Linked DNA regions of Homo sapiens. The protein of the gene in region 2 purifies or fractionates together with the protein of the main gene of each other region. This does not show direct contact. Each region holds a gene or a part of one and is shown on either strand. Other genes may lie near its edges.

What was found.
Region 1: the proteins of NUGGC (region 2) and POLD2 purify together in Homo sapiens (affinity purification with mass spectrometry; one large-scale study listed by BioGRID and IntAct). This does not show direct contact.

The regions. Positions count from the first base shown.
Region 1 is NC_000007.14:44,117,193-44,120,692, forward strand, and holds part of POLD2 (DNA polymerase delta subunit 2), read right to left. Parts: intron 873-3,500; coding exon 751-872; intron 551-750; coding exon 427-550; intron 56-426; coding exon 1-55. UniProt on the Homo sapiens protein: Accessory component of both the DNA polymerase delta complex and the DNA polymerase zeta complex.
Region 2 is NC_000008.11:28,024,664-28,028,479, forward strand, and holds part of NUGGC (nuclear GTPase SLIP-GC), read right to left. Parts: intron 2,390-3,816; coding exon 2,299-2,389; intron 1-2,298. UniProt on the Homo sapiens protein: Nuclear GTPase found in germinal center B-cells, where it may inhibit function of the activation-induced cytidine deaminase AICDA. Reduces somatic hypermutation in B-cells which may enhance genome stability.

The DNA.
Region 1 (3,500 bases), on a different chromosome or scaffold from region 2:
TCCACCAGAAACTTCCCGTCGTCTCTCACGGAGCCAAACACAGCCAGGACAGTCCCTGGGGAGCAGTGGCATCAGGCCTGAGCAGGGAGCCCCAGGTGCTACCACTCCTTCCAGTCACCCCAACGGGCAAAACAAGCCAGTTCTCCACAACCACATTGGTGAATTCTCACCTAGGACTCCAGGATGCATGCCTGCTTCCTGGAGTCACTGCCCTTGGATGGAGGTGGGGAGACCCATCTCCCAGCCAGGTCTCACCCAATCTGATGGCCTCCGACCGCCTGGAGCCTCACCTACCTCCTCAAGAACACACGTGTGCCCAGGCCACACCCCCCCACTCCCCCCAGGCTCCCCACTCACACCATCCCTAACACACCACCGCTGGGCTCTTCACCTGCATCACCCACATCCTCTCATTGGGCTCCCTACCCGTAACCAGCTTTGACACGTCAATGGTGCCTTTTAGTTTGATACGCTGCAGTTCATCTTCCAAGACCAGCTCGTCATCTGGGTGTATGTATTTACTCCGAGGAGGCTGGGGGAGCAGGTTGTGCTGGAATGCAGAGACAGGAGGTATAATCTTGGGGCCAGAGCCCACCAAAGCTCTGGTGTTAGTGAGCTGGCACCGCAGCCCCCACCCCTCTGGAGTCCATTGTCTCTGAACCTGCTTCCCCACAACCCCACCTCCAGGGAGGTGTTCTAGTGGGAGGCCAGGTCTGCCTGGCGGCCCCACTGTGTAGCACCCTGCCTCACCTCCTCGCTGACCTCCCGCAGGATGGAGGGCTGCAGCGGCATGGCCTTGAACAGAGTGCCCACCACACAGCACTTCTCCTCAGGCTGCAGTTCACACAGCTTCTTCACTCCCACTCCACTGCCTGGGACACGAGGGGTACAGACTCAGAGATGAAGTAGCCCCCCCGCCCGACAGAGGCCATGGAGGCCCTGCCCAGCACTCCATGAGAGGCCAATCACAGGGCCCTGGCCTTGCCAGGAGAGAACATCAAGTACAAGGACCCCCTGGACTTCACGGTGACAGTAAAAAGTGAGTCAGCCACAGGAGACCAGGGACTCTGGGTGTGGTTGGGCCCTGGATGCCAAGTGTCCTCATGAGAACAGAGAGACAGACACACAGACAAGAGGGAGTGTGAAGACGGGCAGAGCGGAGTGATGCGGCCACAAGCCCAGGAACACCAGGGAGGAGGCCAGGAAGGACCCTCCCCTCGGGCCTTCAGAAGGAGCCAATCCTGCTGACATCTGGATTTCAACTTCTGGCCTCCAGAACTGCCAGAGAGTAAATGTCTGTGTTTTTCTGTTATTGTTGTTTCTGTTTTTGTTTTTGTTTTGAGGCGGAGTCTCGCTGTCATCCAGGCTGGAGTGCAGTGGCGCGATCTCAGCTCACTGCAAGCTCCGCCTCCCGGGTTCACGCCATTCTCCTGCCTCAGCCTCCCGAGTAGCTGGGACTACAGGCGTGTGCCACCACGCCCAGCTAATTTTTTTTTTTTTGTATTTTTAGTAGAGACAGGGTTTCACCGTGTTAGCCAGGATGGTCTCAATCTCTTGACCTTGTGATCTGCCCGCCTCGGCCTCCCAAAGTGCTGGGATTACAGTCGTGAGCCACCGTGCCCGGCCATGTCTGTTGTTTTAAGTCAACCAGTTTGTGGTGCTTTGTTACAGCGCCTACAGGAAACTAATACAAAGTACTGCTTCACTTATACCTAAATTACAACACTGACTCTTAAAAAGAAGCATGCCAAGTCTCAACACAGCCCTGTCCCACAAATAACTGCCATTTTCTTTTAAGACTTTAGATTCTTCCACCCTACCCCCCACCCCCAACCCCCACCAAATGCTTCATCCTCTGAGACCAGAGATACTCAAAATGCAGACCTCAGATCCCCTCCACCCATTCCATTCCCGTGGAGTCAGGTGGCTTTGTTTACCCAGGGCACCTGGGCACCGTCTTCCCCAGCCCCTTCCCGGGATCCTAGGTATGAACAAGAACACATGGGAGGGGCTTGGCACTCTCGAGAAGAAAGGTATGGAGAATCAGTGAGGGCAGGAGGGAGGAATACAGGTGCCCACACAGCACAGATCCAGGCCTGGAGAAAACACCAAGGAGGTGACAGGACAACGCGGATGCCAGACCAGCCCCTTAGCCTAGCTGACTCCAGCACAGCCTGAGCCCCTGCTGCCTGGGAAGAACCAGGAATATTCCTCAAATCTACGCCCTAGGGAGCAGACAGAGGCGAGCAACTCAAAACAAGACAAGAAGGATGCCAGCAGCAGACAGAAATGCAACAGACTCCACATCCTCACGTATCCCACTCTTACTCTCCCCCAGGTGGCCTAAGCACTGTACATGTAACTCAGCCAACGCTGAAAATGTGCCAGGAGTAGATATTATCACCCAACTGATGCACAGAGAGGTTAAGCAATGTGTCCAAGGGCACACAACTGGGATCCAAGTGTATGCCCCTGAGCACTGGGCAGAATGACATCCCTGTAACCGATAGTAGGACATGCTTCCACCCAGGCAATGTGCTGGCACCAAGATCAAAACTGGACATAAAAGCCAACACTTGCCCCCACTCAGCCCACTGGGTCTAGGCAGGAGAACGACAACAGGCCATAGACAAGTAACTCGCCACAGTGACAAGTGCTGTGAACAAATGGTGAGCTGAGGTAGAAAACGGAGGCCCTCATTGCAAGGTGGCTTCAGGTGGCCCCTCAAAGAATATAACACTTCAGCTGACAGTGGGGCTTAGATGGGGCCATGGGAAGACAAGGGAAAGAGTGTGCCAAGTGAAGGGAAAAGCCTACAGCAGGAAGGTCTGGGCAGGTTTGGGGAACAGGTGAGTGGAAAGACCAATTTGGAGAGACAGGCTGAGCTTCAGTGAGGATGCACAGGCCACATGGAGAAGCCACATGTAGGTATTCAGGGTGGGGGCCAGCACCAACCACCAGGCCTGTGAGCGAGTGCTACTGCTGCCCCGCTGCTATCAACACATTCACTGTGGCAGCTGTTTGGTTTCCTGACCAGTCTGTGAGCACAGTGAAATCGCTATCGTCCATCACTGGGGAGCTTTTTTGACAGCTCCAATAACTGGAAGAGAAATGTGCGACCAGAGGAGGTGCTGCCGGAAAGAATCTAGAAGGTGGCATTGACATTGGGCCCAAGTAGTAACTGAGCTCTGAAAGGAGCCAAGGAAGGTGTCCCGAGGGCTGAAAGGAAAGTGAGGAAAAGCTACCGGAGCCGCAGGAGGGAGCCCCTGATTATGTGGGAGAGGAGAGGTGAACAGCACTTTGTCTCAGGTAAACAAAACAGAAAACATCCTGATATGATTTGGCTCTGTGTCCCCACCCACATCTCATCTGGAATTATAATCCACACGGTGTTGACGGAGGGACCTGGTGGGAGGTGACTGGATTGTGGGGGTGGATTTCCCCCATGCTGTTCTTGTGATGGTGAGTGAGATCAAGCCATCATGCGATCTGATGGTTTA
Region 2 (3,816 bases):
GGTTAGTTGGCCCTGAGCCTGGCCAGGGATGGGACTCATGAGCAGAGGGGAGTTAGGACCCGGAGTCTTTTTGTTCTGTCCCATATCTGGAAGGCCTCCCTTCTCCCCACTGCCTCTGAAATCAACCTAACCTTTGAGGCTTCCCCCAGGACCCAGCTTCAGTGACGCTTCCCCGCGTCCCAGCCCTGAATAACCACTCTGTCTCTGAACTTCAAGAATAACGATCTGAAGTCTGAGTGGGTTCCCTCCCTCAGGGCTTTGCTTAAGTGTCACATTCCCAGGGAGACCTTCCTTTACCACCCTGTCCCACCACCCTGTCCCGTACCTCAGCATCCCTTCTTCCCTTTCTGTGTTTCGCTTCCCTGCCACATATTTCACTTATTAGTTTGCTGACTGCCTGCCTTCCACCCACTGGGCTGTGAGCTCCATGAAGGTGGGGACTCTTGCCTGTATTGGCCACCACTGTGTCCTCAGCACCCAGAACACTGCCTGGCACCCAGGACGTGATCAGAATCGCTTGCTGAGTGAATGTAAACTCCCCAGTCTTACAACGCACATTCTTACACATCTTGTCTTACCAACCAGGTAAGGCCCTGACAACAGGGACTGCCTTTTAGATTTCTTTATAAAGTATGACCCCCTGACATGATGTATATTTGCTGTCGATGGTGAAGAGAAGGAAATAGGCTTAAATTATAGCAGTTGCACTTGACATCAAACTGAGGGGAGCACCATCTGTCAAGTGCACCTGCTATAATTCTTGAAGTTCAGAGACAGAGTGGTTATTCAGGGCTGGGATGCGGGGAAGCTTCACTGAAGCTGGTCAAGATCTCTGGCAAGCGGGAGTTCTTTAAAGCAGGCACATTGGAATGACTATCATCTTAAAACTTAGATTCCTATAAAGGCCTGGACAGAAGGTCATGAGAGTCCAGTACATTATAGTGTGAGGGTGTTGTATCTCCTTCCCTGGAGTCCGTTAGATCAGGTTAGAGGTCCATCTAACCAGCCATAAATGGGTCATAAAGATTCCCAGAGAGATGGAGAAGTGCAGAACGGATTGTTAGAAGCAGCCATTGTGGCTTTGACTTTGGGAACAGCTCTGTCTACTTTCACCCTGGCAAACTCAAATGGCATCAGATCTGTTCATTGCAGCAGGCAACTATGGATGTGGTATAAAATATAAAAGGCACAAAATATACAGGGTGCAGAGCAAGGCTCCCACCCTCTCCTACCCTCCAGCCTTCCAGTTCCCCTCCTTAGAGGCAACGAGTACTGCCAGTGTTCTATGTAGCCCATGGAGATTTTTATGCACATACAAACATATACATATGTATTTCCTTTTTTCCCCTCTCACAAATGGCAACATACCATATACATTTACTCACTTTGCTGTTTTCCACTTTGTAATATATTTTGGAGATCATTTCATGCCACTACCTATAAAGCTGCTTTATTTTTTCTAACAGTTACACAGTCCTCCACTCCTTGTGTATCTAATTTAATTTGAGCAGTGCTTTACTTACAGATATTTGAGTTGTCCCCATTTCTGACTTTAGAATGTTACCCTGAATAACCTTGTCTATATGCCACCCTCCCCCCATATAAGGATATCTGTAGGGTTGCTGCGCCAAATGATATGTGCATTTTAAATTTGGCTAGAAATTACTTAATTGCTGTTTGTACCAGGTTACCCTCTCCAGTTTATACCGGGGGCCTGATGGAGCCCATGGCCTGAAAGGGACATGGTTGCCTACACCAAGGTCCACAGCTGGGGCCGCATCCCCAGGCTATAGGTGGATTAAGAGAAGCCTTTCTCCACCATCACCAGACCATGAAATTTTTCTTAAGGAGGCATCAACTTAAAAGAAAGACTTTATGGAGAGAGCAGGGCAGAGCTGTGGATTTAAATTAGCCGCTTTCCAGCTATGGGACCTTGGGCACATTTCCTAATATAAGTCTCTATTTCTGCATCTGCAAAATGGAGCAACAACATCTATCCCTGGGAGGTAATGTGAGAATTCAGTGAAACCATGAGCACAAAGCCTGAGTATAATGCTTGCTGTCAGTTGGGTGCTGGGCAAAGGGTAGGGCTGTTGTTTTCATCATCATCATCATCATCATCATCATCATCACCATCATCATCGTCATCATCTCCATTCCTTGCCCTGCTAATTCTTCCTAACTTCCTAACTTAAATTCCTAAAATTTAAAGTTTAATACCTTTAAATTCAGGAAGGAGTAACCACAGCCAGGGCTGTCTGCACAATCACCCTGTATACAAAGCTTTGGCGTATTTACCTGCAAGCTCCTTGTAGAGGCCATCCCCCTGGGACGAAGCAAGGGCCAGCATAGTGGTGATGCTGCCCTTCACCTTCTCCACGATTCCAGTCTATGCAACAAGGACATTCAGTCTGTTAGGATGGTGCAGCCCAAGGAAAAGTGGATCTTATAAAAGGGACCCCACCCAGTCCCCCAGCCACGGAAGGTACAGACTGGGGTTGCCAAAGTCAGGCTTTGCAACCCAGTTGCAAAACGGTGAAACATTTTCAAGGACACCAAATGGCCCAGGAGGCAGCAAGACAACATTTCTGTGGGCTCCCATCTGTACAGCATCTCCCTCCCCACCTACAGGCTCGTGGGGGGCTGCAGCTCTGGTGCCAGCTGATCAAATCAGGAGCTAATGGGGAAGCATGAAGGCATGGCGGAGAGAATGGCAATCACAGAGATGGAAAAAGAGGGAAAGAGCTGGTCACTTTCCCACCATCCTCTCGTCCATGCATCTGCTCACTGGGGAGATGTTTGCTGCACACTTGCTTTGTGCCACTCACCTTACTGTACATGTCTGATTCTTCCCAACTGCCTGAGAAGTGTCTTCTTGCTACTCTTAGTCCTTTTATCAACTAAAACCCCTTTCTTCCCTCTTCTGTTTCTGCCTCCCTTTGAAAAAAATGTCAGGCTCCTTCCTCTAGCCTGGCAGAGTCTAGTTTTGAAGCTGGATCTCCTACGCTTTTTCTTTAACGTTCTAGATTCTAGATCAAGAGCCCTAAGCATACATCTCAGCTCTAGCCATGGACCTGGAACCTGTAACTCAAGGCCTCTAGGTTCCAGCTTCCTCATCTTTAAGATCAGGGAACGAGAGATTCACAGCTCCTAAACCACAAGAAGGAGTCACCTCACGCTAGAGTGAAAACGAAGCAGCAAGCCACATTATCGATCAATATATCAGAGACTAATCTGTATATTCAACAAAATACTATTCCATTCTTTAATTTACAGGACTATTGCGAAGAGGTAATTTAAAAAAAGTAAATCTTCAAACATTATGTATAAAAAGAAATTTCACCCATTGTGTAGAACTAAAATATTTTAAAAAACTAAAAGTTAACTGGCGTTCTTTAAAAAAAAAAAAAAAAATCACAGAATGGGAACACTCTATGGTCTTGCCCAGTTTTAACTTCCTATGTTTCTGTCATTTCAGATACATTTGTACATGGTCAACGTACACATTTTTTAAGCGACATAGTTTCCTGGGTGTCTTAAGATCCAGTGTCTATGTACACAATGGGGAAATGGGAACTGGCTTTATGGAGTTCGGCCAGTTTCTTGTCCATGAATTTTTAGACGGTGATAACATGTTAAAGGATTGAAACTAAACTGCTGCTAGTGAACAAGATGCCTCTTAGCCTACTCCAAGGGGAATTACATGCTTTGAATTGTAAAGAAGGATATTTTCCAAAACTGCAGTCCCGGTGGAGGAGAGGAGATTGGGCAGAAACAGGTTGGAGATGTTTCAAGAAGGCTGGTTCTGAGGTGGAC